Linked DNA regions of Homo sapiens: region 1 is linked to region 2. The links come from fine-mapping of genetic effects on gene expression. Tissue or cell type: unexposed skin. Region 2 holds a variant in brackets; the other region holds the start of a gene. All regions are shown on one strand. Distances are between the middles of the regions.

Region 1 (5,377 bases), 30 kb after region 2:
TAACATGACATAAATCAAGATTTTAACTCACCAAAAACTAACATTTTGATTTAAAAACACAAATCAGTGCCATTAAAATTCATCAGCGGCCCCTAGCACATGAGTAATGAGATCATATCAACTTATATCATGTAACTAAAAGGAAAAGGTGGTTTTCTAAATGGTAATTCAGATTGGACAAATAACACACTGTATCAAGTTTTGTAGCTCTAGGCCATATTTTGCTAAACACAAAGGTACATTATGCATGACTAAAGAAAACAGTGAAAATCAGAGCAATTAATTTCCCAGCTATGTTTCCCATAAAAAGACATCACTACTATGATCTGCTTATAACACAAACTTTTTTGCATTGCACAATGATCTAAGTGTGTAATAACTTACATATTTCACTAAGATGTAACATCCTTCAAAACATCCTTATAATGAAAGTTTTCCAAAAACATTATTGATCACCGGCATGTCTCATGTTTTAAAATTACTGACGAATCCTTTACTATTTTCTTTACAGCTAGAAATAATTCTTCTTGATCACTAGAGTGTAAAGGGGTATAAAGTACAAAGACTGAATATTTTCTTAAATACTAACATCCCAGTTGACACAGGACATTTCCCATAACTTGCCCAAAACAATAATTAGGAGAGTTGTCACTGGAATCCTAAAAATATATGTAAGAAAACAGAGATTCGTTGGCATCAATTTAGCACAGCAAGAGATTTCCATTAAGTGCTTTTTCAAATTATTTGCAAACACTTTTTAGCTGAACCCTCTCATTTCCAGTGGAGCCTTTTATGTTTCTTTGCAGAACTCAAGAACCTTTTCTCAGGTGGCTCTGCTTTGCTGCAGGTAAGTTTGGTATTAACACATTTTCTTTATCTGTTGGAGGTAGTGAAACGGCTCTCTTCCTCCGTTGTCTTTCACTGGCACCTTTGTGGCCGCTCGTAGTCACTGACCTCACCTTGCTGGAAAGGTGGCTAAGAAAAGAGCAGTTTCTAATAACTCAAGGGAACTGCAGCGTTTCCATTCAGAACAAACAGCAGGACCCAGCTGGAGGGGTGCAGCTCTAAAGAAGTAAGACCCGCACCACAGCGGACAACTTCCAGAGGCTCTTCTCCAACACCGCCAAACACAGGCGGAAACACGGAGCCTGGACAGAAAGAGGGACGAGCAGAGAGATGGGCGCAGAGAGCAAGAGACAGGGGAGCCAGGAAGACCGGGAGCGAAAGCCTCTTGAGAGAGAGAGAGAGACCAAAAGATTGTGCGAAAGTGACAGAGGGAAGAGGATGAAGGGACAGAGGAGGGACACACTGGGAGAGCCAGAGCAGGCGGTGGGGAGAGGGAGACAGACGCACGGAAGGAAAGAGAGACCGGGGGGAGAGGCAAAGGATAGCAATAAGGAGAGGAAGGGAGAAAGGAAGAAAAGGGAGAGAATGAAAGACCCAGAACTTGAGAGAGAGGCATAGAGAGAGAGAAGCAGGAGAGAGAGGAGAAGAGACAGGCAACTGAAGCAGAGACGGAGCCCAGTCCAAGGCGCCGGGACCAGCCCGCTGCGCACTTTCCCCCACGGCAAGGCTGGGTCTCGGGAGGCGTCCGGGGCAGGTGGGTGCCTGCGGGTCCCGCCTGGGCTGGCCCTGGGCCCCCGCCCCGCCGGGCTCCCTCCCATTTCCCGGATTCCGCGACTGCCCTCAGCTCGCCCTCCCGCCCCATCCCTCCGCTCGCAGGTCCGACTCCCTGCCTTGGGGCGTCCCTACAGCCCGAAGCACGTGTCCCGCCCGCCGCCGCCGCTGCCCCGACTCCTCGCCTGCGCAGGCACGAGGCCTCGGGGTCCCGGCAGAGCCGCCCGCGCACAAAGCCGAGGCGGCCACCGCCTGACCCCCTCCCCGCCGCCGCCACCGCCCCACGGCCGCGCAGCCCGCCCTCGCTCTCGCCCTCTCCCTCGCGCGCTCCGTCCTGCCTAGGGCGACCGCCGCCCAGCTCCGCACCCAGCCGCTACCCGTCCCGCGCCGCCCCTCGCTCTGCCCGGCTCTCGCCGGCTCGGCCGCCTCCCGCGCGCTCGGGAACTCGGCCACCCGCAGGGGACGGGGCCCCGCCGCGCGCGCCTTACCCGCGGCTGCGCTCCCGGCTCCCGCGTCCTCAGCGCCGCGGTCTCCGCACTGCCCGGCGTCCCGCGAGGCCCCGCCGACTCCGCGCCCCGCGCCCGGCTGCGCCGTCAACTTCTGGCCGCCGCGGCCGCTCCGCCGCCGCCGCCGCCGCCACCGCGGGACTTTTTTTTTTTTTTTTTTTTTTTTTCCCTCTCGCTCCTCGGCTGCCTCTGGAATTTTTTTTTTTCACTTGCCCTCTCCAGCTCCCACTAGTGATTGGAGACTGAGAGCCAAGTACTTAGCGGAGGGATTACACTTCTCAACGCACTTGGAGCGGCCCCAGCGCCGCCGCCTGTGTGCGGAGTGCGGAGCCGACTTGGGGAGCGGCGGGGTGCGGGCCGGAGGCAGCCCGGGTACAGGGGTGCGCTTCCCAAGCCCCGTCCGCTGCTCAGAGCATCCCCAAGATTTCCCTCATGGGTCCTGTCCTGGTTGTTTAAGAAGGTTTCCAGAAAACCTCCTGGTTTGAAGAACAAAGATTCGTGGAATTATTGTACCTTGAGAGCTGGAAAGGGCTCGCAGAGATGATATAATGTCGTGGATTTCAACTTTTCGGGGCCATAGACACTTTTCAGAAATTGATAAAACGTTGACACACCTTGTAAAAAATGAACACATTAAAATTAAGCCTGCAGTTTGAGGTGGGGGTTTTAAGAATCTTGAAATATATACAGTTGAGCGTCCAAGGGAAATGAAATATTTCCCTTCTACATATTTTTTGAAACCGTTAAACGAAAACAACCACCAAAAAATTAAAAATAAAAAAATAAAACCCAAAAGAGAAAACCCATTCCATTTGTATTTGATGACAGTTTACAGTTAGTCGTGTTTCTTTTGGAAAAGTATGTAACGTCTTATACTTTGTGGTCTCCTTGCTAAGTCTTTAAGTGTTGAAACACTTTCTAAGTGGGTAAATATAAAGTAAGCTAGTTCACAGTCAGAAATTTGGGGAGAATAGTTAACCTCTTTAAAATCAGCCATTTTGCCAACTCTATTTCCCAGGGAGATATCTCGTGACTTCCAAATACTCTTTTCCTTTCAATACCTTTCAGCTTCCCACTCTCCAGCATTACTTATTTTCTCCTTCTGTAAAATTTTTTTCCTCCAAAATATTGACAAACAGTCTCTGGTCACCACCAAGTGTGTGATCTAAGTCATTTTTTTTTTTAACAGTTTTTCACCCTGAAGTAACTTTCTTCCAATTTTCTTCATATCTATTTCTATATTCAATTCTTAGCCTACTATTTTCTTTCAACTACTCCCTTTTCTTAAATTGTTTCTATTAAATCTTTTTTAAACATTAAATGTAATCTTTTTGCACTTATCAATAAAAAATTCATTTGTGTATCAATTTATTTTATGCAGCTTGCACTTAAAGCAGGCGGTGCCCCCAGTGTTTATTGAGTGTATGAAGATGTGGTCATGTTTTTTCTATAAAAGCAATGTTAGAGTCTCCACAAAGGTCTTTTTGCCCCATGATATATCTGCATTGTGATTTCTAATGCCAAACTGGAAGAAGAAAGGTATCTGAAAGAAAATTTCCAAAACAAGTGAAATTAGTCATTGACATCATCTGACCTTCCTTATTCAACCACTGTTCCAGTCCCCAGTACCAGTACTCATCCTCTTGCCCCAAGAATTCCAAGATAAAATCCATTCATTTTACTCTCATCCCAATTCTTCTCTGATACCCTCACTCCCACCCCTTCCCTTTTCCACCTCCTTTCTTTCAAAACAATAAAGCATATGACTACCTAAATTACCTTCTACCTGGTCCTCAATCCAATTTTTCATCATCTCCATCCTCATATTAACTAAGTGTTTTGTGGGGAGAAGGGGGCTTGAAGACACGGAAATTATAACTTCTACACCATTAAAATAAAAGACAAAGCAAGGAATTATGAGCTATTATGTAATTAACTAAAAATAATAAATTATCGAAAATGAAATGTGAGTTTAGAAATATGAGTTTTAAATATTGAAAATAAGATACCAAATTATAATTCATTACAGAGCTTATGATTGTATACATAGAAAAGCTTAGAGAATTTACTGGAAATCCATAGAACTAAAAATGTAATGTGTTGATCATTGTCAATATCTCATCAACATTAAGCAAGTTTAAAGAGGAAAGAAACCTGATTGAATCTATCCTTTCTACTGTGTGAATTACTGATAATTTGTATTTGACAGCTGTATAATCTCCCTTAGAATTGGAGCACTCATAAACTGCAGTGAAATAAAGCAGACATTATGCAGAATGTTTTGGAGCTAGTGGTATTGTCACCTGTATCTTTTCAGAAGTTGCACTAAGGATTATCTTTCCTTGGCTTAACTCCTCCATTCAGCAAATATCCTTCAGAGAATCTGCTGGGTATAAGATACTGATTCAGGGAATACAGGCATCTCTGGATAGAGAAGACACAGATTCCACTTCAATCAACTTGCAGACAAGGAGACAGATTTTTTTAAATACCTTGTTTAAATATATTTTTTAAAATTCCAAATCAGAGAACAAAGGAAATTCCTGTAGGTCTTTGGGATGAAAAAAAAAAAGCACTCCAGGTGGGAGAAAATGGGGTACAGGGGAAACTGTGTTTGAGGTGGGCCTTAGATGGTAACATTTCTGTAAGCAGGAATGGGGAGCCTTGGAAAGAAGCTATTCAAAAATCAACATTTTTGAGTGCCTATGACAAACCAAGTCCTGGTATTTGAGAGGCAAACTCTGTCCATTCCTTCTTGAAACTCATAATACAGAAGAAACAAGATACTTAAAAAATATATAGAACTTTCTATGAGAAGTGCATTAATGCATGAACACACAATTTTTGGAGCATAGAAAAATGAACTATTCTGCCTAGAAATCTCAGGAAAACCTTCCTAGAGTAGTCACATTTCATAAGGGTCCTGAAGGATCTTTAGAGATCAAAGCGGGGCTAGAAAGAGAATAAACATCCTAAGCAAGGAGAACCCTATGAAAAAGCATGGCGTGTTTAGAGAACAGCTGGTATCTCAGTGCTGCTATCCAAGTGATGAGGAGAAGGTGCAGCAGATGACTCTCTTAGGCTAAGCAGGGTTCAGAAATAACCTTCTCAAACATACTAATGAAATTGATTTTTTCCTTATTAGGTAATGGAGAAGCACTGGAGATTTGTAAGCCACGGAGTCAAATGGTGGACTGGGATTTTCAGGAGATCATTTAGAGGTACCTGGAGAGGGAGAAATGAAAGCACAAAAC
Region 2 (5,377 bases):
TTATACATCAGTTTAATGGGCATTTCTTGCTTTATGGTTTTTTGCTAATGACTTATTACTTATTTATTTTATGTTTATTTTAGACTATGGAAATGATGTTAGACAAAAAGTAAATTCAAGTGATTTTTTTATTCAAGTTCAAATGGGTCATAAAGCAGTGGAGACAACTCACAACATCAACAACGCCTTTAGCCCAGCAACTGCTAATGAACGTACAGTGCAGTGGTGGTTCAAGACACTTTTCAAAGGAGATGAGAACCTTGAAGATGAGGAGCATAGTGGCCAAACCACTGGAAGTTGACAATGACCAACTGAGAGCAATCATTGAAGCTGATCCTCTTAAAACTATACTAGAAGTTGACAAAGCACTCAACGTTGACCATTCCACAGTCGTTCAGCGTTTAAAGCAAATTGTAAAGGTGAAAAAACTCGGTAAGTGGGTGCCTCATGAGCTGAAGTGTCATCTTCTCTTGTTCTATGCAAGAACACTGAACCATTTCTCAATCGGATTGTGATGTGCAACGAAAATTGGACTTTAATATGCATGTGTTAACCTCCTCTTACTTCCAGGTTGTGCTTCCTGCCACTCTGCAAAGCTTCTAAGACACAGCCAATCCATCCAGGGGTACCTGGGCACTGGAGCTACTGAAACTCCTGTCCCAGTGCAAGTGATAGCAAATGGGCAAAGGCCAGGCCTTCATCACCTCAGGGGAGGCTGGGATAGATGTGATAGAAGGTGAGGTGATGGCAGAAGCAAGCAGACAATCACAGTTATGCCAGGGAATATCCTGGGGCCATGCCGAAGAGGAAGAAGAGCAAGTTGCTCAGGCTTGGGCAGGCGTGATGCAGAAGATTTGAGAGGCAGATAAACTGGATCTGGTGCAATCCTCTCCTTCTGTCGCTCAGATTAATTTGCACTCTCTTATGAAAGGCAGATCTAAAAGATGCCCTCATCTCTTCTCCAAGAGAAGAGGTACAAGTCCAGTTCTTCATGGTTGTGAAGAATTGCACTTGCACTTGCCTAGAAAGAGATTTAGTAAACCAAGGTATGATTTGTGCCTTTTGCAGCTGGTCCTGTAAATCTGTGTTTGTCATCTCCCTCCTGCACCTCCTACGTCAGATTCCCTTCACCCACAGCCAGTGCTCTGGGTGGTCTGGTTTTTGCCTTATGGGGTGACCCAGACTTTTATTCCCAAAAGGCTTGGGCCTATAGTTTCCTTGCTTTTGTCAGGCTATGGCTGTTCAAAATGTCCATTCACAGTTGCCACTAGGCAGCAAAAGACCAGAAGACAGCCCAGGGAATCCCCTGGGCCAGAGATACTCCTCCCTGTCCCCAGTATGTAGCAATAACCTTAACTCCTCCTGGTGTTCACAGTTCATTGGTCTACCAATGCTTCTTTATGCCTGCTGGTGCACTGTCATAAGCTCAAAGTGAATATATTGTGGTCGCAGCTTCCAGTCAAGAGAATTCTTACTGTGTCCTGTGGCTAAAGTGTTCCTCACCCCATCCTCCATGAATCAGGACCTCTTACCTGGGAGAGCTTAAGACTGCAGGGACAAGAAGCACAAAATCTACAAGTGGGTCACTGTAACTGATGGCAGAAGGTAAATCCAACTTCCACCCTTTGATTTTCAGATTCTCTTGTTCTATTACCAACTCAGCCCCATATATACCACATTGAACCCCACGGAGTTGTCCACAAGTTGCTGCTTTTACTGAATATTTATTCCATTCCACAGGCCACTCAAACCTCCTATCCAAATGCTTCTGGGTATTAGAAACATACTAACTCCAGTGAATCTTGTGATCATGAGTTCCAGTATAAAATAGGTCCCTTGGTCAAAGGAAATACTGTGTGGGTTACCACATTGATATTGCAAGAAAGAAAAAATATCTTTTCTTTCTACCCATCTAAGTTCTCGCCTAGAGCCCCTGTAACAAAAGATTATCAAAAGAAAAGCATACAGATTTATTTAATATAAGTTTTACATAACATGGGAGCCATTCTTAAAGCAAATGAAGAACCAAAGACGTGGTTAAACCTTCATTTTTGTGGTCAAACCTGAGCGTTTTTGTGTTTCATTTGATGAAGAGCTATGGAAATATATGAAAGGACAAAGAGGCTGAGCTAAGTGTAATAAACTGGCGAAACTTAGCAAGGCCTGTTCACTTCGACTCCTCTCACTGTCCTTCCAATCTTCAGAGATAAGAATACTTCTTTCCTCTGGATACAGGGAGGGTACCTGTCACATGAGGGCCTTATAACCTGCTTCAGGGGAGAACCGGAGATGCCATTTCTTAAATTCCTTTAGCTTAAAATATTTAATAAGCCAAGGTGCCATGTTTCAGTAGCTTGTCCTGAACCCCATCAACATATTAGGCCCTGAGTCAATGGACTGAACATTCACATGGTGATACTGGCAGGATCTCTGCCTGCAGGGGAATAAAAAACCTCTACGTGGAGTATATGTCAATTCTGGTAAGGATGCTTTAGTACGTCTTTTAAGGTCCAAGACCTCCAAGATGACCCATCTGCCATCAGACTAGGCGGCAACTGGTCTCCTACATATCAAGGGCTTGGTATTGATCCCAGGTTGGGCATTCAGCCATAGGGTCAATAATTCATTCCTTGTCGCCCTGGTAAAACAAAAAATGTCCTGGGGAATAAAAGTGGTTACGTTTACGGCCAGATGCAGTGGCTCACACCTGTAATCCCAGCACTTAGGCACACTGAGGCAGGAGGATCACTTGAGGCCAGGAGTTCAAAACCAGCCTAGGCAACACAGCATAACCCTACCTCTACAAAAAAAATTAAAAATTAGCTAAGTGGGCTGGGCACGATGGCTCACGCCTGTAATCCCAGCACTTTGGGAGGCAAAGGCGGGTGGATCACGAGGTCAGGAGATCAAGACTATCCTGGCTAACAC[G/A]GTGAAGCCCCATCTCTACTAAAAAAAAAAATACAAAAAATTAACCAGGCATGGTGGTGGGTGCCTGTAGTCCCAGCTACTTTGGAGGCTGAGGCAGGAGAATGGTGTGAATCCGGGAGGCGGAGCTTGCAGTGAGCTGAGATCGCACCACTGCATTCCAGCCTGGGCAACAGAGCGAGACTCCGTCTCAAAAAAATAAATAAATAAATAAATAAAAATTAGCTAAGTGTGGTGGCACATGCCCATAATCCTAGCTATTTGGGAGGTGGAAAGGTCACTTGAGCCCAAGGGTTTGAAGCTGCAGTAAGCCAAGGTCATGCCACCACACTCTAGCTTGGGTGACAGAATGAGACTCTCTTCAAAAAAAAAAAAAAAGGTGGTGAATTCTCAAGTCTTACAAAGTATATTTCTAATATTTCTGCCCACTATGAATTTTGACCCCTTTCTCAATAACATGCCAAAGAAGCTCTGACATTTCCATATGCCCTTGCTAGAACATGTAATTCCAAATCACACAGGGGTAAGTACCCGCATGATAATACATCTTCATCCAGCAGAACCTTATATTCCATGCCCTCTCATCTTCCCATGTCCTCAAGATCTATTCTACAAATGTTTCCATAATACCCGAATTATTATGGCATATTATTTTAACATATACTATATTCTTCACAGAGCAGGGATCATAATTACCCACTTAGCCTATGCTAAGATGCTACTTAAGCAATTCAGCCTAGAAGTAGTGAGTGATGATGTGGCCAGATCTTGAGGAGAATAAGCATAATCATACATAGAACTAACTTCAGGAAAGGTCACTATATAGAATCCAGAGAAAGTAGGGCTATTTTCTCCTGGCTAAAATGACTTGGAAAAAATTAAGGATTCAATATTGTTCAGCACATATACCCAGAGGTCTCATTTCCAGGTGTCAGCATCCTACTATTTCTCTATCAAAGCCCTGGCTTTGACAGGTGATCTGTCAAAACTGTACCTTCAGTCTTATACTGCAGCCTTGCCACTCTTATATCTTGGGGTTAATTTTCAACATAATATTCTCTGTGAATGTGGAATGAGATCTCCCTTAAAGAAATTATAGCAGTTCTCTGGCTTTCACAGTGTGCCTTAAGCTGGCTGTGAGCTACCTGGGGCCCATCTTTTTCTTTTCTAAAGTCTTTAATGCTGCCAAAACACCAAAATCCTTACAGTTATCCATGCCCCACCCCCATGCCCATCAAATGCAACAGCTACATGTCTTTCTTTTCACCCATATCTTATGCAAAATTATCATCATTGAAAGCTGTGGTCATTGTGATGCCACTGCATGCCAAGGTCATTGTCAGCTCCCTGACGACTAGCAGTCCTTACAGCCTTCAAAGAGGGAAGCAATCTAATTTAACCCCATCCTAAGTACATATGTGCTAGGAGCACCACTGATTATAATTAGTTTTGCCTGAATTCTTTAGAAATCAGAGTTTGAGGCCAAGTTTACATGTCAATAATTCTTTGGTGAGCACAGGGAAGGAAGAGTAAGGGAAAAGGGGAAATGAGGCAGGACAGGAAGGAAAACAACTATAAGGTGGTACATTAACAAACTGGCTATGGCCTTGCAAGAAATCGCGGTAAGCTACAAGTCACAGGCATATCTCCACAGAGGCTAAATGGAGACCATTTGTCTCAGCTCCTTTCTATCTCCCACCACTCATGGGTCAGTGTTTGCTCCATAGCATAACTTTCTTGTATTAATATTTTGAGGCCTGACCCCTCCAAGCAGCTGCTGGTGAAGCTTGAGGCTTTGTAGGTCCAGATGCGGCACATCATGCCTTGAATTTGTTATGACTCTTACCCTAAAGGTCACAGGAAGGCTGTACCAAAGAGGAGGCTAAGATGACCTGTATGGTATCAAAGATGAGGTTACAATGAAAATGGCCAGGGCTTTACAACCACAAGAATGACATGAGCTGCTACTGTGGCCACTCTAAAAAGGAAGTAGGACAAGCAACTGAGGTTTGAGAAGGGAGCCAAATGAATCTGGGCAGAGAAATCAACTGGGCCCAGTATAAATTTTATGCCAATGTATGTTAACATTTAGGCTGGGTGCAGTGGCTCACACCTGTAATCCCAGCACTTTGAGAGGCCAAGGCAGGAAGATCACTTGAGGCCAGGAGTATAAGACTAGTCTGTGCCACATAGCAAGACCTCATCTCTACCAAACAAAAAAAAGAAAAAATTTTAAAAAGTTTACACAAAAGAGAAAATGTAAATATAATTTTGAAAAACTATTCAAATAGAAACAGGAGACCTGAAAACTCATAACAAATAAGAAATCTAAGTAGTTTAAAAAGTAATCTTGTAAGTTCAGATAATTTTACAAAGTTCTATCAAACTTTCAAGGAACAAAACCTAATATTATACAAGTTCATCCAAAAAACAGAAAAATTACTTACACTCC

Direction of the effects. Positions count from the first base shown, and alleles are read on the strand shown. Sizes are in standard deviations (SD) of each study's normalised expression.
For the expression in unexposed skin of the gene that starts at base 2,219 in region 1, allele A in region 2 goes with a higher level than allele G (small effect, 0.34 SD a copy in GTEx).

Evidence for each region. PIP is the estimated chance that this variant, and not a neighbour inherited with it, causes the effect.
Region 1: BMPR1B starts here. The variant in region 2 is fine-mapped to the expression of BMPR1B in unexposed skin (GTEx, PIP 0.98).

Annotation. Positions count from the first base shown.
Region 1 is chr4:94,754,797-94,760,173 of GRCh38, reverse strand. It overlaps BMPR1B (bone morphogenetic protein receptor type 1B), which reads right to left and starts at 2,219. Exons shown (of 13, transcript NM_001203.3): 1 at 2,106-2,219. BMPR1B-DT (BMPR1B divergent transcript) reads left to right here and starts at 2,641. Exons shown (of 3, transcript NR_121610.1): 1 at 2,641-2,780; 2 at 5,269-5,344.
Region 2 is chr4:94,784,297-94,789,673 of GRCh38, reverse strand. All of the region lies in intron 1 of BMPR1B (bone morphogenetic protein receptor type 1B), which reads right to left. Among named protein-coding and RNA genes, the nearest start is that of BMPR1B, 29 kb to the right of the region's middle. The variant G/A (reference allele first, on the strand shown) is at 2,929.